Linked DNA regions of Homo sapiens: all the other regions are reported to be linked to region 2. The links are microRNA targets in miRTarBase. Many come from high-throughput screens and were not tested one by one. Region 2 holds a microRNA gene; each other region holds the end of a gene's coding sequence.
Evidence for each region. The annotated mature microRNA hsa-miR-4765 reads UGAGUGAUUGAUAGCUAUGUUC and lies in region 2 at 5,252-5,273, shown strand. An mRNA with a match to its seed (bases 2 to 7 or 8) in the 3' UTR can be bound and repressed. Matches are read on the target gene's strand: a 7mer-m8 pairs with bases 2 to 8, a 7mer-A1 pairs with bases 2 to 7 and ends in A, and an 8mer does both.

Region 1 (7,123 bases), not on the chromosome of region 2:
CGTACCTGTAATCCTAGCTACTCAGGAGGCTGAGGCAGGAGAATTGCTTGAACCCAGGAGGCTGAGGTTGTAGTGAGCCGAGATCATGCCACTGCACTCCACGCCTAGGCAACAGAGTGAGACTCCGTCTCAAAAAAAAAAAAAAAACCCACTTTTTAAAAAAATAAGAGCTCATGGTACCTATTTGCATCCAGTACATCATTGAAGCTTGTAGAAAGCTGCTTAGTTAAAGTGAGGTTGGGTCACTTCGAAGTAGTCCTCCAGTTTTCTAAGCAAGTAAATTTTGGAGGTAGAAAGAAAATGTTCTCCTTTATCCTAGAGGCTCGACTGTGGTATGGTGGGCCCGGGTCATTGATTTGCTTTGTCCTTAATTGGTTGCTCCTACCTGACAGAAGTGAAATGGGTGTTCTGATGGGGGGTGGTGGGTGGTGACTTGAGAAGGTCCGGGAGCCTGAAGTGGGATGAATGAAGAGCACAGAGGCTCGTTGGGAGGCGAGGATAAGGGGGTGCAGAGGCCAGATCCCACAGGCCAGGAGAGGCTGGAACTAAGGGCTTGGGCTTGACACCAGTTACAGCAGGGGCCTAACACATTCTATTAGGTTGATGCAAAAGTAATTGCGGTTTTTGCCATTAATGTGTTAATTGCCATTAAATGTTAATTTGCACCAAATACCTGTCTGGACCCTCGGTGTCCTCCTTGTAAATGGTGTGGTCTGGGTGCCTCCATGTTGAAACATTCGATAAAAATGGATGATGTCCCCATCTCAAGTGCTGGGCTGTGTGTACATCTTCCCTCTGCCTCTCCCCACAGGCCTCCACCGCTATGTCTGGCTGGTTTACGAGCAGGACAGGCCGCTAAAGTGTGACGAGCCCATCCTCAGCAACCGATCTGGAGACCACCGTGGCAAATTCAAGGTGGCGTCCTTCCGTAAAAAGTATGAGCTCAGGGCCCCGGTGGCTGGCACGTGTTACCAGGCCGAGTGGGATGACTATGTGCCCAAACTGTACGAGCAGCTGTCTGGGAAGTAGGGGGTTAGCTTGGGGACCTGAACTGTCCTGGAGGCCCCAAGCCATGTTCCCCAGTTCAGTGTTGCATGTATAATAGATTTCTCCTCTTCCTGCCCCCCTTGGCATGGGTGAGACCTGACCAGTCAGATGGTAGTTGAGGGTGACTTTTCCTGCTGCCTGGCCTTTATAATTTTACTCACTCACTCTGATTTATGTTTTGATCAAATTTGAACTTCATTTTGGGGGGTATTTTGGTACTGTGATGGGGTCATCAAATTATTAATCTGAAAATAGCAACCCAGAATGTAAAAAAGAAAAAACTGGGGGGAAAAAGACCAGGTCTACAGTGATAGAGCAAAGCATCAAAGAATCTTTAAGGGAGGTTTAAAAAAAAAAAAAAAAAAAAAGATTGGTTGCCTCTGCCTTTGTGATCCTGAGTCCAGAATGGTACACAATGTGATTTTATGGTGATGTCACTCACCTAGACAACCAGAGGCTGGCATTGAGGCTAACCTCCAACACAGTGCATCTCAGATGCCTCAGTAGGCATCAGTATGTCACTCTGGTCCCTTTAAAGAGCAATCCTGGAAGAAGCAGGAGGGAGGGTGGCTTTGCTGTTGTTGGGACATGGCAATCTAGACCGGTAGCAGCGCTCGCTGACAGCTTGGGAGGAAACCTGAGATCTGTGTTTTTTAAATTGATCGTTCTTCATGGGGGTAAGAAAAGCTGGTCTGGAGTTGCTGAATGTTGCATTAATTGTGCTGTTTGCTTGTAGTTGAATAAAAATAGAAACCTGAATGAAGGAACTGAGTCCCCGGATGTTTTGTTCTATTGGGTATAGGTTTCATAAGTGTGAGAAGTCAAGTCTCAGGGTGAGTCGTCTCCGTGACCAGCAAGTAACAGCTGGGACTTGTTCTAGGGGCCATATGGAGGGTCTGTGCCTCTACATGTGCCATTAACCCACAGCAGGAGCAAACAGTTCAGATTTGAGGTTTCTAAAAAAAAAATCATAAAATGTGAGGCCGAGTCTTATTGCCCAAAAAGCACCTTTGCTTCAAGTGGTCCTTTTGACCCAAGAAGGATGTTCTAAAGAAGATGGCTGAAAACCTTCCCCCTTGGTGAAGTCTGGCGCGGACACCGTAACAATGCCTAAGAAGTAGCCTGCACTTCCCGTTCTGATGTGTTATCCACAGAGGCTCAGTACCAAAGAGGTGCGCAGGGTAGGAGGGTGAGAAGGTCACGGTCTCATGCCATCTGATGTACCGAAAGAAAGGAAAGGAGGTGTTTGAAGGTGCAAATCACTGTGATTTGGTCTCTGCGATGCAAAGGGGGGGGTCCTGAATCAGGCCTGACAGGTGCTAATGACTAGCCCTTCCCCATCTTTCACTGCAGTACTTTTTTCTCTGAAAAAACTTGGAAATGTTGCCTTGCTGGAAGCACATAAGGTAGATGTAAGTTTTCTTTTTTTCTTTTTTTAATTTTTTTGAGATGGAGTCTCACCCTGTCACCCAGGCTGGAACGCAGTGGAATAATCTCGGCTCACCGCAACCTCCACCTCCTGGGTGGGTTCAAGTGATTCTCTTGCCTCAGCCTCCTGAGTAGCTGGGATTACAGGCATGCACCACTATGCCCAGCTAATTTTGTATTTTTAGTAGAAAAGGGGTTTTGCCATGTTGGCCAGGCGGCTCTCAAACTCCTGACCTCCTGACCACTTTGGCCTCCCAAAGTGCTGGGATTACAGGCATGAGCCACCATGCCAAGCCTGGAAGTTTTTTTTTTTTTTTTTTTTTTTTTACTTTAGAGTTCTAAAATTCGTTTTTTTACGTAATAAGATTTTGTTGAACACAAGTTACAAAGAAAACAACTGTCAGCTGGGCGCCGTGGCTCACGCCTGTAATCCCAGCACTTTGAGAGGCCGAGGTGGGTGGATGAACTGAGGTCAGGAGTTCAAGACCAGCCTGGCCAACATGGTAAAACACCATCCCTACTAAAAATACAAAAATTAGCTGGACATGGTGGCGGGCGCTTGTAATCCCAGCTACTAGGGAGGCTAAGGCAGGAGAATCGCTTGAGCCTGGGAGGCGAGGTTGCAGTGAGCTGTGATCGCGCCATTGCACTTAAGCCTGGGTGACAAGAGCGAAACTCTGTCTCGAAAAAAAAAAAAACTGTCCTGTTGACCTTGGAAATAAATGTAAAGTCTGGGCATGGAGACTCACACCTGTAATCCCAGCACTTTGTGAGGCCAAGGTGGGGCAGATCACCAGCCTGGGCAACATGGCAAAACCCCTCTCTCTCTAAAAAAATGCAAAAATTAGCCCGATGTGTGGACTCGTTCCTGTAGTCCCAGCTACTAGGGAGGCTGAGGTGGGAGGATCACTTGAGGTCAGGAGGTCAAGGCTGCAGTAATTCCAGCTACTTGGGAGGTGGAGGCAGAAGAACTGCTTAAACCTGGGAGGTGGAGGATGCAGTGAGCCAACATCACGCCACTGCACTCCAACCTGGGTGACAGAGCGACACTCCATCTAAAAAAAAAATAGAAAAAGAAAAACATATTAATACTAACACGGAACTAAAGAGAAAAAAAAATACATATATATGAGAAGGCAGTAGTCATCTAAGAAAGAAGGGTGATGCCTTCAACTGGTATGTGATGTGAACTTCCCCAAGGGCGGCTAGGAAGGGGGTGACCCCCATTCTGAACTCAACTCTGGCCTCAAGGTCCAGCTGATAACCACCGGGCCCACTGGGTCACAAATTCCAGCTTCCTCATTTGAAAAAACATCAGGGTTGCAGGGGGTTGTCAGCCTGCCTTATTTACCTCACAGCGTTGTTGGAGGACAAAATCATCTTTTTTGGGATTAAGAGTTAATGTATGTAAATGACTAAACTTGGCCTGATTGTCATATAAGAACAAAGTACAAAAGTCCAGTTTCCTCAGGTCTGTTTCCTCACTGCAGCCTCCGCCTCCTGGGTTCAAGCGATTCTCCTGCCTCAGCCTTCCTAGTCCCCCTGCCTTCCTTACTGCCTCCTCAGGCAGGTACTAGGAGGAGTAGGACAACTCTGTCCATAGCAGGTGTTTGTTAGGAGCAGGGACCCACATCCCTGCTTCCGGGTAACTGCCCTGGGACACATCCTTGACAAACTTGCGCAGTGGGACTTTTTTTTGAGACCGAGTCTCATTCTGTTGCTCAGGCTGGAGTGCAGTGGTGCCATCTTGGCTCACTGCAGTCTCCGCCTCCCGGGTTCAAGCGATTCTCCTGCCTCAGCCTCCCGAGTAGCTGGGATTATAGGCGCCCACCACCACGCCCGGCTGATTTTTGTATTTTTAGTAGAGACGGGGTTTCACCATGTTGGCCAGGCTGATCTCAAACTCCTGACCTCAGATGATCCACCCACCTCGATCTCCCAAAGTGCTGGGATTACAGCTGTGAGCCACCGAGACCTTTTCTAAAGATAGCACCTACAATCTCAGACATAGGGCCCTTTCCCAAACTAGCTAGACATTTCTCACCACAGTGAGAAATGGATGAAAGAGGCTACAGGAAGCTTTTCTACCCTACTGAAGGTGGAATACTCCTTTGGGTATAGATCAGACAGGTCTCGATTCAGACCCCACCCTGCCACTGGAGTGAGCTTATTTCTTCATTTGTGAAAGCCTAGTGTTCCATCATGTGGCAAGCGTAAGCACGCCATCGACGTTATCTGTTTCTCTAACCCTTTCCAGTATTATTTTCAGATGTACCTAATATAGAAACTCCAATGAACAGAGGTACTTAGGAAACACAATTATCACTGAGTGTGATGTTACAGAAGGTTTTGTAGTTGGGATTAACCCATGTTGATAATTATTTATGAGTATACCTTTCTGCTTTAGCCTATCAGAGTGAACATGACTGGTCACATTTGTCTCCGATACATGAACATCCTGTAGGAAACAAGAGTGATCTTTAGGTCATCATATTCTTTTCTTTTGAAACAGAGTTTCACTGTTGTTGCCCAGGCTGGAGTGCAGTGGTGCCATCTTGGCTCACTGCAACCTCCGCCTCCCACGTTCAAGCGATTCTCCTGCCTCAGCCTCCCGAGTAGGTGGGATTACAGGTGCCCGCCACCACACCCAGCTAATTTTTGTATTTTTAGTAGAGATGGGGTTTCACCATGTTGGCCAGGCTGGTCTTGAATTCCTGACCTCAGGTGATCCACCCACCTCAGCCTTCCAAAGTGCTGGGCCCACCCCACGTCATCATACTCTAAAGAGCAATTTCCAGGAGTGTCCAAGGGAGAGAACACAAGTCATGGGTTCTTAGTTTCTGTTTCTGGTTGGGCCAGTAAAGCCCCTTCCTCGTCCCCCTTTTCCATTTATCACTAGACACAGAAACCAAAAACCATAGCTTCAGGCTGCCAAAAGCCTAGAACAAAACAAAACAGAGTAACAACAAAATAAGGTGGGTTGGACAAGCCTGATTGATAGAGGCTTAAGCATTTGGGATCTTACTGAGATTGTCCTGACTCCCAAATCATATCCCTGAAATTTTATATTTTTTACTATCTCATTGTTTTACATGTAAAATTATTCTAATAAAAGCAGAATATGAGGGGAGAGGGATCTAATATTACAGTGGGGTCATTTCAAATATTTGGTTATAGTGCCTTCTCCACAGCCTGCTTTTCTTTAAGGGTGCCCAATTTCTCTCTTCAGCAATGCATGCTTCTATGCACGACTGGCACGTGGGGGGTTTTGTGTGTGTGTGTGTGTGTGTGCGCGCGTGCGCGCGCACATGCCTTCTATTCTTTAGGACAGAAAGGTGCAGTTGACCACGTGCCCACATCGAATGGTGCAACACTATCTTCAGCCCCATAGAAGAACTTGGAAGACAGAGCTTTACCTGAAAGGCTTGAATGGCTCTTCTTGGAGCGACCGAGGCTATGGAGAACAGTTTCAGGAGGGTGGCTGTCCCTCTGAGTTGTGAACTGGTGAACCTAGAAGGGAAACTTCCTGCTACAATAACACAGCAAGGCGATGTGATGAACACTTTTATTTACAAATATAATTAAAAGCTCTGACAGTTATCATGCTCTTCCTTGGAACCTGAAAAATGTTTTGTTTTGTTTTTAAAGTGCATGCAAAAGAAGTAAAGCCTTTTTTTTTTTCATCATTTTTTATTGTAAGAAAATACACAGTTTGAAAGTGTGAATAATGCAATATTTATGACCAAGAAATGGGACTTAGGAAGGGGAAGGGAGATAAAGAAAAAGATCAAGATGATCTGATTGAGAGACAGTGTTGAACTCCAAATACTGAACTGGAAAAGGAGGGAGGTGGGGAGGAACAGGAGGAGGAAGTAAAAAAATTTGATCAGAGAAACAGTTAAAATACAATATGAAAATAAGTAATACCTCTCCTTAAATTCCTTCTATACACAAAATACACGATTTGCCAAAGCCCAATTTGTGCTACTGGGATTCTGTGAGCTCCTTAAGTGTATTCACATCCTCTGCAACAGCAGAAAATGATTATGATACAATCAGAATATGCTGAAGACAAGTTAAACTCTTGCCAGCAGGTTCTTAAAAATCACAAGATCTCTTCACCCCACCCACCCCCCGTCCCCAAAAAAGTAATAATATGTCACCACTGATATGTACATCACAATTAGTTTCTGTAAAATGTATCAAATTTTCAATCTTTAATAAAACTTTGTTTTTTTTATTCCTGATGAATAAATACCAAAAAAATAAAATAAAATAAAATAATGCAGCAGCTAGTTAAGGTGTAAGGCTGCGGATATTGTGTCTCTCTCCCCCTTGGCATTTATTATTATTATTTTTTGCTTTACTTTCACAGATTGGTGGTAATGAGTGATTGCTTAAAGCAATATACATCCACTTTTTTTGTTGTTGGTTTATTGGTTTTGTTAAAACTGTCTCCAAAGTTTTCACTGAAACATTTTGAATCACATCAATACTGTGACGTGTACTGTGAATAGAAGAGACGGCCAGGTTTTGGCCAGCACTGAAAGTTGACACGGGGGGAGGAAGGGGGCCCCTGATGGAGTAAGAATAAACAGGCACTAGTCCGACACGATGTCAGTAAGAGTAAGAGAGAGAGAGAGTGAGA
Region 2 (7,123 bases):
GATATCACAAGTGCAAAGTGTGGAGGCAGGAATACGCATGGGACATTAGGGAAACAATGAGTAAACCAGCGCTCTTGGAGTGACTTTTCAAGAAGAGAAAATAATGGAGGTAGAAAGAACCAGATTGTGAAAAGTTTTAGAACCTTGACTAAGGAAACTTTTGTATTGTCAGTAGGAATCTTTGTGAATTTCCCAGCAAAAGACTAAATACCTATTAATGAGGAATATTATTTCTGGGGCTGACTTCCACTTTGGGGCTCATAGTCAGTATGAGTGAGCTGCTAATTCTAGGAGAGAGAATGTTTGTAGAATGATGGAAATTTACTGAGTGCCTTGTGACTGACATACAGTAATCATTCTAAGTCTATAGATTGTTTTTGCACACTAAAATGGTAGATTTACCTAATAGTGTTATCCTTTACGGTATGAAAAATAATTTTTTTTGGATTACCGCACTAATTTTTTATATTACAGAGAGTGGATCTTTCCTACAATTGCTACTGGAAGGGAACTATGAAGCCATATTCTTAAATTCAATGACTCAAAATATTTTTAATTCAACAACAACCGCTGAAGAAAAGATTGATAGCTACCTGGAGAAGCAGGTAGTAACATTCCTGGATTACTCAACAGATTTGGACACAACGGAAAGGTAGAATTTTATTTGAAATTTTCATAGAGGAACAGAGCAAATACATTTAATAGCACCTTGACAGGGTAAGGCCCTGATTTTAGCAGTTGAGAAACCTTGCCTTATATTTTACTCAAGACTCATGGTGTACCAAGTAATCTATGTAAAAACTCATCCAGAAGTCCATCCAGAATGAAGAAGTAAAGTGGTGCAGGATAAAATGGTTTCATATATGAGACTGGCACATATTTTGGTGTTAACTGCAAATGCTTAGGTCTGGTCGGCTTTACCCACCGGCAAAACTTCAGACCTTATTTCCTTTAACTTAAAAACATACTTTCAGGCTGGGTGCAGTGCTTCACGCCTGTAGTCCCAGTGCTTTCGGAGGCCGAGGCGGGCGGATCACATGAGGTCAGGAGTTTAAGACCAGCCTGGCAAACATGGTGAAACCCCGTCTATACAAAAATACAAAAATTAGCTGGGCATGGTGGCATGCGCCTGTAATCCCAGCTGCTAGGGAGGCTGAGGCCGAAGAATCGCTTGAACCTGGGAGGTGGAGGTTGTAGTGAGCCAATATCCCGCCATTGCACTCTAGCCTGGGCGACAGAGCGAGACTCTGTCTCAAAAAAAAACCAAAAAACAAAAAACATACTTTCAATCTTGTTATTTCTGCATAGCTGAGTGCTAATTTGTAACTATTTATTATGTTTTAGATTATTATCTTTATAGAGCTCAGAGAACTTAATGTTTTTGTAAGGAAGCCCTTGGTTTACCTTCTTCCATTAAAGTTTGTGTAATTTTATAGGGTTAAGTATAGCAGATAGTTACACAGCAGGGAAACCTAAGCTTTTCAGTGGCTTATATTTCATTGTTATAAATTTGATACCTCTATCTTTCGTCTACTATCTGTGGCAACCATGTCAAGCTTTAATTATCTTATAAATGCATGCAATTTTATTTTACCATTATTTCTAGGAAATAGCTTCATTTAGTCCTTCAACAAATAAACTATTGTAGTAGATGTGGAGGTTCTGAGGATGAATAAAGCATAACCCATATTCATAAGGAGTTTGCAAAAGAATGCTACTACAGGCTTTTAATTTTATTTTGAAAATTAATATTATTCATTTTCTTTTTTCTTTTTTTTTTTTGATGGAGTATCACTCTGTTGCCCAGGCTGGAGTGCAGAGGCGTGATCTCGGCTCACTGCAACCTCCGCCTCCCAAGTTCAAGTGATTCTCTTCCCTCAGGTTCCCATGTAGCTGGGATTACAGGCCTGTGCCACACCTGGCTCATTTTTTTTGTATGTTTAGTAGAGATGGGGTTTCACCATGTTGGCCAGGCTGGTCTTGAACTGCTGACCTCAGGTGATCTGCCCACCTCGGCCTCCCAAAGTGCTGGGATTACAGACGTGAGCCACTTCGCCCAGCCTCCATTTAATTTTTTTTAGTTTACTGGTAGTTATGTTCCTTTGGTATCATTCTTTTTTTTTTTTTTTTTTAGTTCCTTTTTGTAGAGATGGTGTCTTGATATGTTGCTCAGGCTGGTCTCGAACTCCTGGGCTCAAGCAATCCTCACCTCTGCCTCACTAAGTGTGGGGATTATAGGCATGAGTCACTCCGCCCGGCTGGATTCTCATTGCTTTCTTATATGTGTGCACTCTCATAGCAACTAGCCTTGTGGCACCCATTAAAACAACACATTCACACAAATGCATTATTCACTGATATACCAGATTTCTATCTTGTCACATAAAGCTAAAAAGAGACATTTCAGTTGACTCATTTTCAGACATTTGAAAGTTAAAGTGTATTTTCAGTTCACCTTATGGATTTTGTTTTTTGATTAGGACAGTTTATTAAGGCTGTTTTCTCCAAATTTCCAAACTTCTGATTGCATACCAGCTCTTTTGTTATCTTTTTTCTCTAATGCTGCTTATTTGCATTGCATCCAGAGTTTTATATTTTTGCTACCATAGGCTTGTATGTTTGATTTTTTTTTTTCTTTTTCTGAAAGACTCTTCCTTTTAAGGAAGGGCCTAGGGGCTGTGGGGAAAAAAGTGATTACTAATACTTTCTCTTCAGAATGAAACTCCAGGATTCCCTGGCTGTTATTTGCTAGAGTTGGATCTGTACCTATTTAGATCCTAATTTAGGGTTTGGCACATTATGGCTGGCAGGCTAACTAAGTGGCTAAGAATTAATGGGTTTTACATTTTTAAAGGGTTGGAAAAAAACAAACATGATATGCAAAGCCTAAAATATTTCATATTTAGAAAAAGTTTGCCTATCCCTGTCTCACATCACAGCAAGACTGAAAAATAGAGTTTTCACTAAAATATCTATATGTTTTGTTGTTGTTGTTGTTCTAGCATTTGGTGGTATGGGATTGGTAAACAATTAGCAACAACTTTATATCATCACTTTTCTTTTGTATAAAGTCAGTTTTCTATACATCTTGCAACATCAGAGCTGTTAAAGGGAGTGCAAGAAAAACTTATAGATGTCTGATCAGAACCTAAATCAACACCGTTCAAGATAATTTTCCGTGGAGATAGAAGTGCTCTCTATCTTCATTGCCCACATGGTAGCCACTAGCCACACTTAACTATTGAGCACTTGAAATATGGAAAGTATGACTAAGGAACTGAATTATAAATTTTATTAATTTTAACTAATGCAAATTTAAACCATGTTTGGCTCGTGGCTATAATATTGGATATTGTAGACCTAATTTCTTTTTTTTTTAAGAGAGACAGGGTCTCGCTTTATCATCTAGGCTGGAGTACAGTGCTATGATCAAAGCTTACTACAGCCTCAAACTCCTGGGCTGCAAGCAATCCTCATGCATCAGCCTCTTGAGTAGCTGGGATGTACCACCATGCCGGCTAACTTTTAATTTTTTTGTAGAGACAGGGTCTCACTATGTTTCTCAGGCTGGTTTTGAACTCCTGGGTTCAAATGATCCTCCTACCGTGGCCTTCCAAAGTGCTGGAATTACAGGCATGAACCACTGTGCCTAGCTAACCTAAATTGTTTTAAGTTTTAGAAATTTTTTTTTTTGGTAATACTCTAGGATAGTCTCAATAAATGTTGATAGATATTATTTTCTTAATAAAACTGAAATGGAATAGTGTGTTTGAGATTATACAGTGATAGTAGTTCATATTTATTTCTTTAACCATTCTTATATGCAGACAACAGTTGATATTTCTACTTGGTGTGAGCAGTTTGCAACTTTTTGTTCAGAGCAACTGGACGGGGCCCCCTGTTGACTTACACCCTCAGGACTTTTTGTCATCTGTTTTGTTCCAGCAATTCAGTGAGGTATGCTTCTTGAAAATGTTGTATGTAATTATTATTATGTTATTTATTTTTTATAAGCAGGTCTTTATAAACTGGAACTCATAGTAGGAAAGAAACATGACTTTATGGTTTGCACAAAAGTACTAAGAATGCTTGTTCATTGATCAGATTTTCACAGATTTCCAGAAGTTCCTTTGTCAAACTCCTCTTCATACACACTCCATTTTATGGAGCTGTGTTAGCTGTGTTTTTTAATGAAAGTACAGACAGCTGCACCAGTTGTTTAGTTGGTTGTATCACCTCAGTTACATAAAGATTTTTTTTTTTTGAGATGGTATCTCACTCAGTCATCCAGGCTGTTGTACAGTGGCTGGATTACAGCTCACTGCACCCTCAACCTACTCAGGCTCAGGCGATCTTCCCACCTCAGCCTCCCAAGTAGTTGGGACTACAGTTGCATGCCAACATGTCCAGCTAATTTTTTTGTAGAGATGGAGTTTTGCCATGTTGCCCAGGCTGGTCTGAAACTCCTGGGCTCAAGTGGTCTGCCTGCCTCAGCCTCCCAAAGTGCTAGGATTATAGGTGTGAGCGCTGTACATAAAGATCTTTAATGGCAAAGCAGCAAATCTGGAAATCTGTTTAATTTTATTTCAGGTAAGTTTTTAACTAATTAATTAATTAATTTTTTTTGAGACAGAGTCTTGCTCTGTCACCCAGGCTGGAGTACAATGGCGCGATCTCAGCTCACTGCAACCTCTGCCCCATGGGTTCAAGCAATTCTTCTGCTTCAGCCTCCCTAGTAGCTGGGATTACAGGCGTGTGCTACCACACTTGGCTAATTTTTGTATTTTTACTAGATGTGGGGTTTCTCCATGTTGGCCAGGCTGGTCCCAAACTCCTGACCTTAAGTGATCCTCCCACCTCAGCCTCCCAAAGTGCTGGGTTTACAGGCGTGAGCCACCATTCCCGGCTTGCAGGTAAGTTTTGATACTGTACTTAAGAATGGCTCCCAGGAGTGGTTTGCTCCCAGGGGTGGCTTTAAATTACAAATACTTTATTAAAGTTTCTGGCACAGCATTGCTTCATGGTGATTATTATCCATTGTGAAGATAATATTATCGATCTGTGCCAGTGTGTCGCCAATAGAGCTTGCAGTTTGAGTTCCTCAGGAATCTTGAGCTCCTATATAGAGGGTCTGGCTAGTATGAGATGATCTACAAAAGAAGTATGGTTTAAATCAAAGTAAGAACTTTGATTTATCCAGCCACTTTGGTGATTTTGAACGTAGCTATCCACCACTCAGCCTGGAAAAAGCTGAGTGATTGATAGCTATGTTCAAAATCACCAAATTGTATCCAGAACTCGTGCAGCAAAACAGACCTAGTGTTACCTGGTTTCTCAGAATTAGGTGTAGCAAGTAGGCCGGGCACAGTGGCTCATGCCTGTAATCCCAGCACTTTGGAAGGCCAAGGCGGGCGGTTCACGAGGTCAGGAGTTCAAGACCAGCCTGATCAACATGGTGAAACTCCGTCTTACTAAAAATACAAAAATTAGCCGGGTGTGGTGGTGCACGCTTGTAATCCCAGCTACTCAGGAGGCTGAGGCAGGACAATTGCTTGAACCCGGGAGGCGGAGGTTGCAGTGAGCCAAGATCACGCCACTGCACTCCAGCCTGGGTGACAGAGTGAGACTCCATTTCAAAAAAAGAAAAAAGAAAAAGAATTGGGTGTAGCAAGTAAATGTGGAATAGAGTTATTAGAGATATGTGTTAATAATTTGATGGGGGGGTAGAAAGAGAAGAAGTGCAAAAACAAGCATAAAGTGAAAACCACAATAATTAACTCTTTGCATATCAGCTTAGTGAGTCACTATATATACTTCATTAGAGTAATTTTAATCCATAATGCTGATCCTAATTATAACTGAAAGGTTAAAAGATGTTTTGTGTCTTATGTCTATGAAGGGAATTTATAATTTATATTCTACAGAGGTTTTCATCCAAAATGGGAGTAAAAAAACCCCAAACCCTAAATGATTGTAGCAGTTAAAGAGATAAGCTTCAGTTATCTAGAAATGTACTTAGGAAACATCTCATTCCCTCTCTTATTATGTATGAATCAGTTTCTGGCTTCTATGGCCCTATAGTATAGATTAGAAATCCACCAAACAGCCAAAGCCATAAATATCTCCTGAACACTGATGTGTGGTTTGAATGGTACTTAATTCGCATTTCTTTTTTTTTGTTTTGAGACGGAGTCTCACTCTGTCGCCCAGGCTGGAGTGCAGTGGTGCGATCTCGGCTCACTGCAGTCTCTGCCTCCCGGGTTCAAATGATTCTCCCACCTCAGCCTCCCAAGCAGCTGGGACTACAGGTGCTCACCACCACGCCCGGCTAATTTTTGTATTTTTAGTAGAGACGGGGTTTCACCATGTTGGCCAGGGTGGTCTCAAACTCCTGACCTCAGGTGATCCACCCGCCTCGGCCTCCCAAAGTGTTAGGATTATGGTGTGAGCCACTGCGCCTGGCCTTAATTCACATTTCTTGTGCCAATTTGGTCCTTACAGATTTGAGGTAATCTATAGGTGAAAAGACTGAAGCTCAGAGTGGTAAAAGAATCTTGTCAGAGATCTGTAGCTGGGGCATTGGAATCCACATTTTCTGGTTCCAAATCCAGTACTCTTCTATACTAGTGTAGAAGCACCTGTAAATTCAGGTAGCAAATCAAAACAATATGGAAATGAGTTTCATGAGAAGTTCAGACCATAAGAAATATTGCCATTAACAAAGAGATTTGTGGAAGCTGGATTTTGTCAAAGAAGACCTTTTAGTTGGAAGTGGACCTTGAGCTAGAACCTGAAGGATGGTTAGAAAATGGATAGAGAAGAGGAAAATATCCATTCTAGGTGCAGTCATATGAGCAGGAATTTAGAGGAGAGGACAGCATAGTGTTTGTGGGAAAAGGATGCTTTGAACTTGCCTCTTTTAGCAGTGAAAAATCACTTGATGGAGGTCATTTGGAGTTGTAGGAAACTTTGACTAAGTCTTTGATTTTAACTTTTTTATTGGAACTACTGCCAACACTTAAAAGAGCATATGAAATGTATACAATTTAAATAATAAATCTCCTTTGTACTCACAACCTAGCTTGAGTGTCACAGGTAATGCTCTCCAGATAGTATACCATGT
Region 3 (7,123 bases), not on the chromosome of region 2:
CCATGTTGCCCAGGCTGGTCTTGAAGTCCTGAGCTCAAGTGATCTGCGCACCTTGGCCTCCCAAAGTGCTGGGATTACAAGCATGAGCCACTGCGCCTGGCCTTATGTTTTTTATTTAAGCATGGTTGTCTCTAGGAAGGCAGTGCAGGGATAGCATTGATAAATGAAATCCATTTATTTTCGATTTGGTTAGCTGTTTAGTAAGTGGATTGAATAGAAAGAAAGTGCTTAAAATATCATAGAGGAAGTATGGTATCAGGGAAATAATTTAGGCTTTGTTGCCCTACAAGTCTGGGTTTGAATCCTGCATCTACTGCTTATTGGTCCTGTGATCATGGTTAAGTCTGTAGCCTTTCTGAGTCTCAGCCTCATCACTTGACATGATATTACCAGGTATCTTAGGTTGTGAAGTCTAAATGTAGTATACATAAAGTATCTAGTGTATATTAAGTTTTGGAACTGATAAGTACCTGTAACCCTAAACATCTGTTAGTAAAGCTTTCTAAGCAGTAATAACCACCTAACATAGAAAGCATGTTCTATCTTGTCTCATTCAACATTCAGACACTCTGGATTTGTATCATGTCTTTTGCCATAAACTAACATTCAGGTGCCATTGAAGTATATTTAAGTAACTTTGGGTTTATAAAACTTGTCTCTACTTCTCTATAGAAGTAAAATTCTAATAGACTAAAAAAGTTTGACAATTTTAGTAGTATGTGAAAGAACCCAATATACTGTTTTAGGTGACTTACTAAGAAAGCATTTTGGCCTTGTTTTGAGTTTATTTTTTCTTTCTCTTTTTCAACAGAAAAAGAAGCTTCCCAGTTCATTTCCAGCAGGAATGGATGTAGACAAATTTTTGTTATCATTGCATTATGATGAGTAAACATTCTGGACACATAAGAACAGTAGGTGTTAAAAACTCATATCCCTTAAACTGAGTGTAGGGAATGGGATATTGACAGAATCTGAAAGCATGACCTGCACTTTCATTGTACTGAAACTTCACTTTATATCTAAATCATGCTGTTTCTGAAACAGCTTCCTAGTTTGTAAATAGACTTACTTGGTATATTTTTATTTTGGGAAAAACGTTTGCAGAAATGTAAGTAAAGCCAATCTGCAAAACTGTATAGCTTTGACAATTCCATATTGTAAATACTGTGTAAATCTTGTTGAAATAGAGGTTAAATCAACCTAATGTTCTTACACTGTGTTTTTTGACTTCTTATGATCCCTAATTCTGAGACTTACTCATCTGGAATAGTTTCTCACTTGTTTTGGAGGAAAATGATGCTTATTCTTATAAATTACCTTCAGTAACTATTCAATAAGACATTTAAATACACAATCACTAAGTACTACAAAATAATAACCACCTCAACTGATAGCAAAATATCTAATTAGAAATCAACAGTTTGATGAGTTTTTTTCCTAGAGTGAATACTACCCCTTTCTTATAATTGCTGTAAGTATTATATTTCTGGAATTTCACACTTTACCTACTCTGATCACTCTGTTCTCTTTGTTTTAAAGAGAGAATTTTGTAAACCATTTATTGAATGTTCTGATCTTTCATTTATAACTTAAGATTTTTTACAGAACTTTAAGTGGTTAGACTATTGAGCCATAAAATTTTGGTTTGTAGTAGAGATTTCTCGGTATGTACTTTTCCCCTAAATGCTGGGGATTTAAAGAATTGCACTAATTCATAGAACTCTTTACATTGTAGTGACCAATGCACATATAATTTAAATCTTGTGTTCTATGTGAGAGTTTATGTGGAGGATTATCTTCTGGTGTTGTGTCCATCATAAGATGTAAAAAGAGAAATCATAGTTTTATATTTTAGTTTCTCCTACAATGGGTATGTTAAATAACTATATCTATACTTAGATATAGTGCATTGTCTGTGTCCCTTAAAGTGTTACAAAGAGTTTCTCTCAAAAGGTCCTTAAGGAGAGTGAGAGATGAGAGAGGTGCCTTCTCTGTATTAGACTCACACACATCAGTCCAGTTGAAGAATTGGTTTAAACTTTTAAATGAGAACAGAAATTATAATTAGTACCTGACCAATTGTGCCTAGATATTAAAGTATGTTCTCTTTAGTACTTTCCGTTCAATTAAATATCAGTATATTAGGGATTTTTTTCTACAGGTGTATATTTTGTTGAAGAGTCACTTTCCTCAACCATTTTTTTGTACTGGGCCTTTAAAAAAATAAATCCATCCAACTTTAACACAACATTTCTCAGTGTAGAAATCATGTCTTCTTAATTGCTGAACCTTACTGCAAAAACTTGTGATGTAAGAAATTTGTATGGTGTGGCAGTGGTCTATTCCTAAGGAACTAAATATCATATAGTTAATGTTTATTTAACTCAGCTTGAGACTGTACTACAGTTAGGTTTGAATAAATATTTTCATTAACTTCAAAAGTTTGAATTACTTTACATTGGCAGTCTTGTTTAGAAACTGATTAAATTCCTTTGCAAGTCAGTTCTTTTTGGGAGTTTGTACAATGCTGAAAATCACAGTTTTCTTCTTATTCAATTCATAGTTGTATGTACTAAGCACTGAAAATTCATATACAAATAAAATAAGTTTACTTTCTTCAAGATTCATAGTTAACTAACCAGGAACTGCTAAGTAAAGTTGAAAGATAACTTGTACTTGGAGCTTTTATGTTCAAGAGCAAAATCATATCCCCATTTTACCTTAAAAGTCCACAGGTCCTGAACTTAATTATACTATTGTACCTGGTAACCTATTTGAATACTTAAATGCCCAGTGACTGCATTTCAGGGTTGATGTATACTACAACAATCCATGGCTGTTTTTATAATTACATATGAGGATCCAGTCTGTTGTTTGGATATTACTTAGAGGTTAATGCAGTCAGTGTATGCCAAATCTGAGAAGTGTTGTTAAGTAAAATCTTGTTACAGATTTAGCCCTGGATATATTAGAACTATAGTGTGTTGAAATTGCGCATAAGAAAAGCATCCATCAGCATTCATGCAAAGGCTACATGTCATGACTATTAGGAGTAATTTCAAAAGCATATTACTATATATTCTGCATTCATCCTTTCTCTGGTCATCATCTTTTAGGCTCAGGCCCAGCTTTCTGAAATTACATAAGTTTTGACTTTATTATTAGTTATTTTGCTGCTTCCTTTAAGCAATGGACTCATTGTGTACTTTTTTCTTTTTATAAATGTTATCATTTTGTCATACTTTTGTCTTTTTTTCGTAAATTTGTATCTACATTGTTGAACACATGGTACATATAGCTTCCTAATGCTTTTTGTTTTGTTTTTTTTTTTTTTTTTTGAGAGAGGGTCTCACTCTGTTGCAGGCTGAAGTACAGTGGCACAATCATGGCTCACTGCAGCCTCGATCTCCCAGGCTCAAGTGATCCTCCTACCTCAGCCTCCCGAGTAGCTGGGACCACAGACATATCCCATCGCACCCAGTTTTTTGGGTTTTTTTGGTTTTTTTGTTTTTTGTTTTTTGTTTTTGTCTTTCAGAGAGATGGGGTCTCACTATGTTGCCCAGGATGATATCAAACTCTTGGACTCAAGCAGTCCTCCTGCCTCGGCCTCCCAGGTGTTGGGATTACAGGCATGTGAGCCACCTCATCCAGCTGCTGCTTTTACTTCCAATAATATAAAGCTTTTTCCTTTTTTTAGCTATTACAAACAAAAACAGCAGTGAGCATTTTTATAAACATTTGTTTATGTTAACTATTTCCTTAGAAATTTTAGAGAGTAGAATTACCAAATCAAGAAGTTAGTGTACCTTTTTTTAAGGATCTCAGTACATTTTGCCATATGCTGCTATTAAACTTGCGTCAATTTACATTTCTACCAGCAAATTGTCATTTTTTTGCATAGCATATGCTTATCCATTTCCAGAGGCATATTCACCTATATCATCACCTGTTTCTAGGTTTGTGTTTCCTGATTTGGTAAAATTAGGAGTTAGCTCCTAATCCATTTGTTACTTGTTTTGGTACCTGATATGAAAAAAGGGTCAATGTACATTTTTTCCCTAAATATTTAACTGCTTGACAATTTGTTCACTTGACAATTTAACCACTGCACAGTTTGTTCAGATAAGCTTTCCTTTCCCCTGCTCATTTATTTAAGATGTCTGTCTTATCCTACACTGATTAACAATCTCTTATTCACAATTCTAAAACCCAAAAGGTTCCGGCAACCAATTTTTTTCCCCTAGATTTAACATCAGAACTCATTCTGTGGCAAACCTGACCTGAAATGACACGAGGCTACTTAACAGTCTTTATCTCATTTATAGTAATGTTGATTAGTCTGCTGTTCCAGACTCAACTGGGGGGCATATGGTGCATACATTTGAGTTATTTTTTAGAAATCCAAAATATTCTGATTTATGAACCCCAGCTAACCCCAAAGGTGTGTATGATCAAAGATTTTGGACTTGTATTAAATGTACACACATATATACACACTATATGGTATGTGTATCGTCTATTCTGTGCCACTGATTAAATCATTATAACTTTTGTGTCCACTGTTACTGTTTTTGTTTTTTCAAGTATTCACCCTTTTATGCTTCCTGGTGAACTTTAGAATCACTTGAATTATTTCAGGTTAAATTTCTATTGGAATATTTGAACTACATTAATGTCATAAGCTAATTCATAAAGAAGCAAAGGGTAACGATCATATGGTATGTATCAAAGTGTTATAGTTATCCCTATCAGAAATTTCTTGCTAAACTGGATGTTTTTGTTTGTTACTATTTTTAGAAAGCTCTTCATTTCATAGTTTTAACTGGTTATTGCTGTTATGTAGGGATGGTCTTGCTTTATTAATATAAAATTTTTATGGAGACACATAAAGAGAAAAGTGCACCACTATAAATTCATGCCCTTCAGTGAATTTTCTTTAAGTAAATACATCCACATAATCACTTTGAACATTACCAGTACCCTAGAGTAGTCATTATTGTGACTTCTGGCACCAGAGATTTAGCTTTGTTTTCCTTAACGATATCAGTGGATACATGGAGTATATAATCTGTGAGAAACACTCGTTTTGTATAATTCAGCTCAGTCATGCTCAATGCTGTGTATATATTCATTGTATTATATTACAGTTAATCCATTTTATAGATGGTAAAAGGTGCTTATTGTGAACAGACTGTGCTGTGAACATTCTTGCACATTTTTTTATGAATGCATTACACTTCTCAGTTGGATAAATACTTAGGAATAGGGTTGCTGGAACACAGTTGCATATATTCAGACATTCAGATTTTTTCATTTTCCAGAATGGTTGTAACAACTTATGCTGCACTCAACAGTATAATAAGTTCTCGATACTCTGTGTTATTTCTGATGTTAGATATTTTCATTTAGCCATTTTAGTGGTGTGTATTGGTATATGTTTTGGTTTTAATTTGGTGTTGGTTTTTTGGGTTTTGTTTTTTTTTTAATGAAGTTGAAAACCTTTTCAAATACTATTTGGGTTATCTTTTGTGGACAGTCCAAGGTTTTTGCCCATTTTAGTATTGGGTGTCTGCCTTTTTCTTACTGATTTTTACGTGTTCTTTCTGTATTCTGGATACAGGTCCTTTTTCGGATGGATGTTAGGTGTCTGAGTATTCTCCCTTGTTATTCTTCTGAAAGCGTTATGGTTCAACCTATTTCATTTTGATTTGACCATCTATCTGGAATTGATTTTCCACATTGATATACAATTAACCCACACTATTTATTACCAAAGATTATCCTTTCCCAACTACATTGCACAGTTACTTTTCTCATAAGCTGGTAAATGTGTAGGTTTGTTTCTGGACTCTATGCTGTTCCATTGGTCTGCTTTCTTTAAGATGTGCTAATAACACACTGTCTTAATTAATGTTGAAAATCTTTTTTTTTTTTTTTTTGAGATAGTCTCACTCTGTCGCCCAGGCCAGAGGGCATTGGTGTCATCTCTGGTGACTGTAACCTCCGCCTCCCAGGTTCAAGCAATTCTCCTTCCTGAGCCTCCTCAGTAGCTGGGATTACAGTTGTGCGCCACCACACCCAGTTAATTTTTGTATTTTTAGTAGAGACAGGGTTTCACCATATTGTCCAGGCTGGTCTTGAACTCCTGACCTCAGGTGATTCACCCACCTCAGCCTCCCGAGGTGCTGGGATTACAGGCGTGAGCCACTGTGCCAGTCCCAAAATCTTTTATATTTTAGTTCTATTTATTTTCTATACTGAGTGAAGTCTGTTAGTACTAATGGATTTACCAGTGCTACTTTTTAATTTGTGAAGTATTATCTGTAAATAATTATTTTCCAATTTTATTTATTTTTACTACACTGATATTAGCACTTCCAGTGCAACTAATAATGATCAAAGTCTGCTTCATTGTCTTGTTCCCCATTTTAATGGCAATGTTAGGTATAATGTTTGCTTTTATTAAGTATAATGTTTGCTTTTGTTGGTAGAGTTTTACGATTTTACATCAGAAGTACCTGTTCAACTTAATTGCCACGTTTAAGCATCAATTAAAATATTTTCATTGAACTCATGAATTTCTTTTTATATTAGTGATTATTTTAAGTAAGTTTGCTTTGTGAATATTTTATTTAAATGTTTTTGGTTTTTGTTTTTGAGACAAGGTCTTGCTATATTGCCCAGGCTAGAGTGCAGTGGCTGTTCATGGGCACAGTCATAGCCCACTATAGCCTTGAACTACTGGGCTCAAAGGATCCTCCTGCCTCAACTTCATGAGTAGCTGGGACTACAAGTGCACACCAACACACCCAATGAAAAGTTTACTTTTAATGAGATTGGTTTCAAACTTATGCCAGTTTTTAAAATGAATTTTAAACCTTTCCTTCTTTTTCTAGTTTATTTGAATATTGGGGATAATAAATAGTACCAGTGCTAAAGTGTGAAGTTTAAATTGTACAATATATGTAAAAGCACTTAGATTAATGCCTGGAACATAATAAGCACTTTAAGAACTAGTTGCTATTATAGCTGATGCTGTTTTTTATTTCTTTTTTCTGCAACAGTTTATTTAGAATGAGAAATAACTGTTCCTTGAGACTAAATCACTACTAAATTATCTAGG
Region 4 (7,123 bases), not on the chromosome of region 2:
AAACACACTCTCTGACCCAAGAAGCTTCTGGTCTAGCTACGTAGACTATAAAAACAGCTTAACGTACTCATGAGGTACAGATAACTAAATATGAATCACTATGTTACACTGTTTTTAATGAACACTATTTTTAGTGTTCAGGACCCTAAAAATGTGAAGCGTTAGATGGGCTAGAGGACGTAGGAGGTGGGTAAAGACTCATTCCCTCTGAGAGTTTTGATTATTGTCTTTTGAGGTCTTTGTGTTTAGAGTTGTGTAGAGGAAGAGGAAATTCAGGAGCTATAAAGGGTGTGGGGTGGCTGGGGAGGGAGAGTCTGATGTTAGAGCTGCCCTTCCTGGGCCTGGGGTCTGTTCCTCCCCAGGGCATGGTGATGGTGAGCCCGGAGATGAATCCTACCATCTGCTCGGTGTTTGAGGCAGAGATAGTCTTACTGTTCCATGCCACCACCTTCCGACGAGGATTCCAGGTGACAGTACACGTGGGCAACGTACGTCAGACGGCAGTGGTGGAAAAGATCCATGCCAAGGTGAGAGGGACCTGGCCTTCCATTTCTCCAGAGGTCAGAAAAGAGGGAGGCCTGCCCCAGACTGGCAGAGAACTCCTTGATCCCACAATGGGAATAAAACCCCACTTAGGGTGGGTAGCGGCCTGATAGGCCTCTGGAGGGTGGAGAGCCACGGCTGGCAGAGAATGGGACAGAAGGCACTGGCCAGGGGAGTGACCACTTATTTGCTGCAGGACAAACTGCGGACAGGCGAGAAGGCAGTGGTACGTTTCCGCTTCCTGAAACACCCAGAGTACCTGAAGGTGGGCGCCAAACTGCTGTTCCGGGAGGGTGTCACCAAGGGCATCGGCCATGTCACTGATGTACAAGCCATTACAGCAGGAGAAGCCCAGGCCAACATGGGCTTCTGAACCCTTCAGGCAGGGACAGTTCTATTGCTGTCCCTACAATATATAAGGTGACTTCTGGCCATGCTGCCCTGCCATTGGCGGCTCTGTGTGTTAATAGGCTAGGGAGAGAGGGGTGCTGTCTGCCACTTGCTCCCTGCCAACTTTCTGGAGAGGTGCCAAACTTGGTGTGGCCAGGAAAGGGCAGTCCTGAGGGAGAAGACAGGATTCAGGGCAGTGCTCCGAAGCTGTGTGCTCACCTGGTTGGCTCATCAAACCTGGCAACCCTGTGGCCTGTCTGCCGGAGCTGACTGGATCCACTCATCAATTCTTCGTCCCCACTACTAAGACTGGGCATGTTTTGCTGGTGTGGTCTCTGCACTTCAGGAATGGTCACAACAGGGGGTAGCCCTCAAAAGCACTCCTTTTTCTATACCTCTTCTCAAGGCCATGTAAGTTGCCCATCTCTACCTGGCTGTGGACAAAAGGTTATCTGCTCTTGGCCATCTGGTGGTGGTGGCGGCCCAGAGTCTGAAGAAATGGCACAGGGACAGTGAATGGTAGTGTTGCCACCCTGTGCTGAGGCCTGAGGCCTCTTCCTCAGCTTTATCTCCCTTTCCTTCACTCAAGGGCCATTTCCCCAGTCCCTATCTCCCCCATCCCCTCCCGGCTTATAGGCCCCACAGGTGCTATTTGTTGTGCTGGCCCAGGCGTGGGGCTACCAAGCAAAGGCTTGGCATATACCAAAGGCCAGCTGCATGCCCATCAGTCTGGTCTTTTTCCTCTGCGGTCATGTTGGCTTTCATGCTGGATCAAATGTTTTACTTTCCCAGACTGGTGGCATCTGAGTTCCCCATCCTACCACTCTCACCCCACTTTCCTGCCCCACCTAAACCCTCGTTTTAGTAATTTGTAGTGACTGTTCCCTTCCCTCTGTTGCAGGGAACCAGGAGGAAAGGGAAAGATGTTGCCATATTTCCTACTCTTTAGGCATGGACTCTCCTTTCCCTTTGTTAGTGTCCTGGGTTCCCATGGACTCAGGGATTTGTTGGCTAAGGTTTCTCTGTGCATATATATATATATACATATGTATATATATTTAAATACACATATATATTGTACAGAATAAAAATGTTTTATTGAATACACTGTGCTTATGCGTTAGCTACAGGCTCAGCTTCCTTCCAGGGCTAGATACCTCTTCAGGATTAGAGACAAGTGAAACCCCAACACTGCTGAGCCCTGAATGTGGAAAGAGCCCAGCTGGTATCTCGTTCACCATTGTTTTTCTCTCCTCCACATAGGTTCAGAGTTCCAGTATTGTAACCAAGTATTGTGGCCTATTTTCCGTAGTTCAAGTGAGCAGAATACTGAGGCCTTTCACGTGAAATAGGTAGCTACCCTGTATTTGAAGAGTTGGCCACTTGCTAGTGGTCAGAATAGTAAGGAGCCCACTTCTGTGCCCTGGCAGAGATACAGTGCCAGCTACTTAAAGAAGAGTAGAATTTAGAGACAAAAGGTAATCTGGTCCCATATTTTTCAAGTTTACATAGCCTAAATTACTCTTGGAACAATGAGGGCCACTTGACCAAACCTTAGTCCCTGCTCCTGTTTCCATGTTCATACTACTTGATTTTGACATTTTATGGGTAAATAGGGGCCAAAGTCAACTGTAAATAGAAACTGCATTTTGAGGAGACCCTGGAAAAGAAATATGTGACCCAAAGTCCTATGTGGCATTCTGCCTCTAGAGTATTAAAGTGATAGCTTCCCTACCACTCAGGCTGTTTTATAAAATGTAACTGGTTTAACTTGCTACTAACAAGCCTGTAGTTGAACAACTTCCTCCTGTATTAGGGGCTAAGCTGTTTACTTCCTCTCTATAGCTGCTGATAGAGATGAAAGCTTTGTCCACAATTTACTTATCTTTTGCCTGTATTGTAAAGAAAATTTTGGAAAATCACATTTCAGTACTTAATAAGACATCTCCAGGAACTAGTGAGCCTCTCTGCAACATTAATGGAACATTTAGGGGGATAAAAAGTATATAAGGCAGACTCCCAAGGAGTTTATACATGTTTATGATCCCAATTGTGGTAATCAGATCTAAAATTCTTCACTATATACATTCATCCAATGAGTATCAGCACCTATCATGTGCAAAGCACTATGAAGAATCTTTGCCTTTAAGAAGCTACATAGCTAGTTAGGGGGAAAAGGCCACGTATACAGTGAATGTAGTCTTTTTTTTTTTTTTTTTTTTTTTTTTTTTTGAGACAGGGTCTCAGACTGTCACCCAGGCTGGAGTGCAGCGGCACAATCATGGCTTATTGCAGCCCCAAACTCCCAGATTCAGGTGATCCTCCCAACCTCAGCCTCCTGAGTAGGTACGACTACAGGCATAAGCCACCATCTTTGTATTTTTTGTAAAGACTGTTTTGCCATGTGGCTTAGGCCGGTTTTGAACTCCAGGGCTCCAGTAGTCCACCCACCTCAGCCTCCCAAAGTGTTAGGATTACAAGCATCAGCCACCGTGACTGGCTAAATATTGTCTTTTATTAGATATTCAAGTATCATAAAAGCAGAAAATATTTTTGAAGAAAAAAATTTCCTGGTAAATCTAGTGGTTTTCAAATCTTCCCCACCTCTTCAAACTAAATATAGAACCCCCCCCCCAATTTATAAATAAAATAAAAAGTAGAAGTTGGGGCTGGCCTGGTGGCTCAGGCCTGTAATCCCAGCACTTTGGGAGGCCAGGGCGGGTGGATCACTTGAGATCAAGAGTTCAAGACCAGCCTGGCCAACGTGGCGAAACCCCATCTCTACTAAAAATACAAAAATTAGCCAGGCGTGATGGTGCATGCCTATAATCCCAGCTACTCAGGAGGCTGATGCAGGAGAATCGCTTGAACCCGGGAGGCGGAGGTTGCAGTGAGCCGAGATCGTGCCATTGCATTCCAGCCGGGGCGATGAGAGAAACTCCGTCACATAAAAAAATAGAAGTTTGGGTATATGTATGGGAGGGATGTGTACACCATTCTCTGGGCCCACTTCACCCAGCGCCACCTACTTCAGTTCATTTTCTTCAGTTGGGTTCCCTGTGTAATTCAAGTTTCCCCATAACAGAAAAGCCAAAAGAGCTGACTTTTCACACACAAGAGTGGAGAATAAGAATACAGTACTATAGGCTGGGCGTGGTGGCTCATGCCTATAATCCCAGCACTTTGGGAGGCCGAGGCGGATGGATCACGAGGTCTAGATAGAGACCAGCCTGGCCAACATGGTGAAAACCTGTCTCTACTAAAAATACAAAAATTAGCTGGGCATGGTGGTGCACGCTTGTAGTCTCAGCTATTCGGGAAGCTGAGGCAGGAGAATTGCTTGAACCCGAGAGACGGAGGTTGCAGTGAGCCAAGATTGCACCACTGCACTCCAGCCTGGCTACACAGCGAGACTCCATCTCAAAAAAAAATAATAATAATACAGTAGTATAAACATGGACAAGTGCAAAAAGCTACATAACAAATTTTAAACCCTAAGCTAAATATTTACACTCAGTGGGAAAGATGAACAAGCCAGTAACCCTAATGGCTGAAGCACTTACCTCTTAAATTTGTACTTAAGGGCTTAAGAAAATGTCCTCTACACACCTGGTCATTAGTATCTTTTAGATCAGCATTTCTCAAACTTTAAGATACACATTGGGAATTTTTTTTTTTTTGAGACAGTCTTGCTGTGTCGCCAGGGTGCAGTGCAGTGGCACGATCTGGGCTCACTGCAAGCTCCGCCTCCCAGGTCAAGCAATTCTTCTGCCTCAGCCTCCCAAGTAGCTGGGACTACAGGCGTGCACCACCACGCCCAGTTGTATTTTCAGTAGAGACGGGGTTTCACCATGTTGGCCAGGATGGCCTTGATCTCTTGACCTCGTGATACACCCACCTCAGCCTCCCAAAGTGCTGGGATTACAGGCATGAGCCACTGCACCCGGCCCACATTGGGAATTTTTTTTTTTTTAAACAGTGTCACTCTGTTGCCCAGACTGGAGTGCAGTGGCACAATCTCAGCTCACTACAACCTCTGCCTCCCAGATTCAAGTGATTCTCCTGCCTCAGCCTCCTAAGTAGCTGGGATTACACGCATGCGTCACCACACACACCTAATTTTTGTTATTTTTTGTAGAGATGGGTTTTCCCCATGTTGGCCAGCCTGGTCTCAAACTCCCAGCCTCAAGTGATCCGCCCACCTTGGCCTCCCAAAGTGTGGGATTACAGGCATGAGCCACCACACCTGACCCACATTGGGAAATCTTGTTAATATCAGATTACAATTAAGTGGGAATAGTGGTGAGGCTGAGACTATTTCTAATAAGTTCCCTGGTGATACTGAGGCTGCTGTTCCTCAAATCATACTTGGGAGTAGCAATGTTCTAGAGATGATCTAGTGGGTTTTTTTGAGACAGAGTTACTCTATCGCCCAGGCTGGAATGCAGTGGAAATCTCGGCTCACTGCAACCTCTGCCTCCCAGGTTCAAGTGATTCTCCTGCCTCAGCCTCCCAACTAGCTGGGATTACACGCACCCACCACCATGCCCGGCTAATTTTTGTATTTTTAGTAGATACAGGGTTTCGCCATGTTGGCCATGCTTGTCTTGAACTCCTGACTTCACGTGGTCCACCTGCCTTGGCCTCCCAAAGTGCTGGGATAACAGGCATAAACCACCACGCCTGGCAAGATTTGATTATGACTTATCAGATCTAAACAGAGTTCCTGAACTAGTCAAGTAGCAATCTAATTCTACATTAGAACAAAACGCAAGAGATAGGCCAATGGTTAGAACTGAGGGTATAATAGGGTTTACCTGTATGAAATTCACTGTTTATTAAGTCACTTTTATGTACAGAAAGACCTGCCCTAGTTACCATATCACTTTTAGGGTTTCAAGGCTTCATCTCACATTCTTCAGCTGAAAACAGGTAAATCTGGTGAAGGTATTATCTGAACTGCCCGTCACAGAGCTAGAGAGAAGTTTTTCTTTTGTTTTTTTTTTTTTTGAGACAGTCTCTCACTCTCACCCTGGCTGGAGTGCATTGGTGTGATCTCAACTCACTGCAACCTCCACCTTCCAGGTTCAAGCAATTCTCCTGCCTCAGTCTCCCGAGTACCTGGGATTACAGGCGCCTGCCACCAAGCCCAGCTAATTTTTTTTAGTAGAGACGGGGTTTTGCCACCTTGCCCAGGCTGGTCTCGAACTCCTGAGCTCCTGCAATCCACTCACCTCAGCCTCCCTAAATGCTGGGATTATAGGCATGAGGAACCGCACCCAGCCTAAAGAGAAGTTTTTCTTTTTTTTTTTTTTTTGAGACGGAGTCTCGCTCTGTCACCCAGGCTGGAGTGCAGTGGCGCGCTCTCGGCTCACTGCAAGCTCCGCCTCCCGGGTTCACACCATTCTCCTGCCTCAGCCTCCCGAGTAGCTGGGACTACAGGCGCCTGCCACCGCACCCGGCTAATTTTTTTTTGTATTTTTTAGTAGAGACGGGGTTTCACCGTGGTCTCGATCTCCTGACCTTGTGATCCGCCCGCCTCGGCCTCCCAAAGTGCTGGGATTGCAGGCGTGAGCCACTGCGCCCGGCCAAGAGAAGTTTTTCTTAAAATCCTTTTTTTGGGGGGGCCAGGATCGGTGGCTAACATCTGTAATCCCAGCAACTTTGGGAGGTCGAGGCAGGCGGATCATGAGGTCAAGCAATCGAGACCATCCTGGCCAACATGGTGAAACCTCATCTCTATTAAAAATACAAAAATTAGCTGAGTGTGGTAGCACGTGCCTGTAGTCCCAGCTACTTGGGAGGCTGAGGCAGGAGAATTGCTTGAACCCAGGAGACGGAGGTTGCGGTGAGCTGAGAACGCACCACTGCATTCTAGCCTGACGACAGAGGGAGACTCCGTCTCAAAAATAAAAAATAAAAATAAAAATAATCCCTTTTTTTTTTTTAACTATGCAAGTCTCATTACATTTAAAACCCTTTTTTAAACTTGGTCCCTTTTCTGTGCCAACTTTATGTTTGTTTTTGTTCTTGTTTTTGTTTGAGATGGAGTCTCGCTCTGTTGCCCAGGCTGGAGTGCGGTGGCGCGATCTCAGCTCACTCCAACCTCTGCCTCCTGGGTTCAAGTGATTCTCCTGCCTTAGCCTCCTGAGTAGCTGGGATTACAGGCGTGCACCACCACGCCTGGATA

Region 1: the mRNA of PEBP1 is a reported target of hsa-miR-4765. Seed matches in the 3' UTR shown: 7mer-A1 at 1,205-1,211 and 7mer-A1 at 1,482-1,488.
Region 3: miRTarBase lists NPAT as a target of hsa-miR-4765. Seed matches in the 3' UTR shown: 7mer-m8 at 1,514-1,520.
Region 4: the mRNA of GTPBP2 is a reported target of hsa-miR-4765. Seed matches in the 3' UTR shown: 7mer-A1 at 1,514-1,520.

What each region holds. Positions count from the first base shown.
Region 1 is chr12:118,143,775-118,150,897 of GRCh38, forward strand. It overlaps PEBP1 (phosphatidylethanolamine binding protein 1), which reads left to right. Exons shown (of 4, transcript NM_002567.4): 4 at 812-1,810. The coding sequence ends at 1,029. TAOK3 (TAO kinase 3) reads right to left here. Exons shown (of 21, transcript NM_016281.4): 21 at 6,027-7,123. Among named protein-coding and RNA genes, the nearest start is that of PEBP1, 11 kb to the left of the region's middle.
Region 2 is chr2:32,630,049-32,637,171 of GRCh38, forward strand. It overlaps MIR4765 (microRNA 4765), which reads left to right and starts at 5,207; the gene lies at 5,207-5,283. It overlaps TTC27 (tetratricopeptide repeat domain 27), which reads left to right. Exons shown (of 20, transcript NM_017735.5): 2 at 475-652; 3 at 3,828-3,957.
Region 3 is chr11:108,152,708-108,159,830 of GRCh38, reverse strand. NPAT (nuclear protein, coactivator of histone transcription) reads left to right here. Exons shown (of 18, transcript NM_002519.3): 18 at 812-2,616. The coding sequence ends at 889. Among named protein-coding and RNA genes, the nearest start is that of ACAT1, 35 kb to the right of the region's middle.
Region 4 is chr6:43,615,407-43,622,529 of GRCh38, reverse strand. It overlaps GTPBP2 (GTP binding protein 2), which reads left to right. Exons shown (of 12, transcript NM_019096.5): 11 at 363-527; 12 at 740-2,036. The coding sequence ends at 916. It overlaps POLH (DNA polymerase eta), which reads right to left. Exons shown (of 11, transcript NM_006502.3): 11 at 2,007-7,123. Among named protein-coding and RNA genes, the nearest start is that of GTPBP2, 10 kb to the left of the region's middle.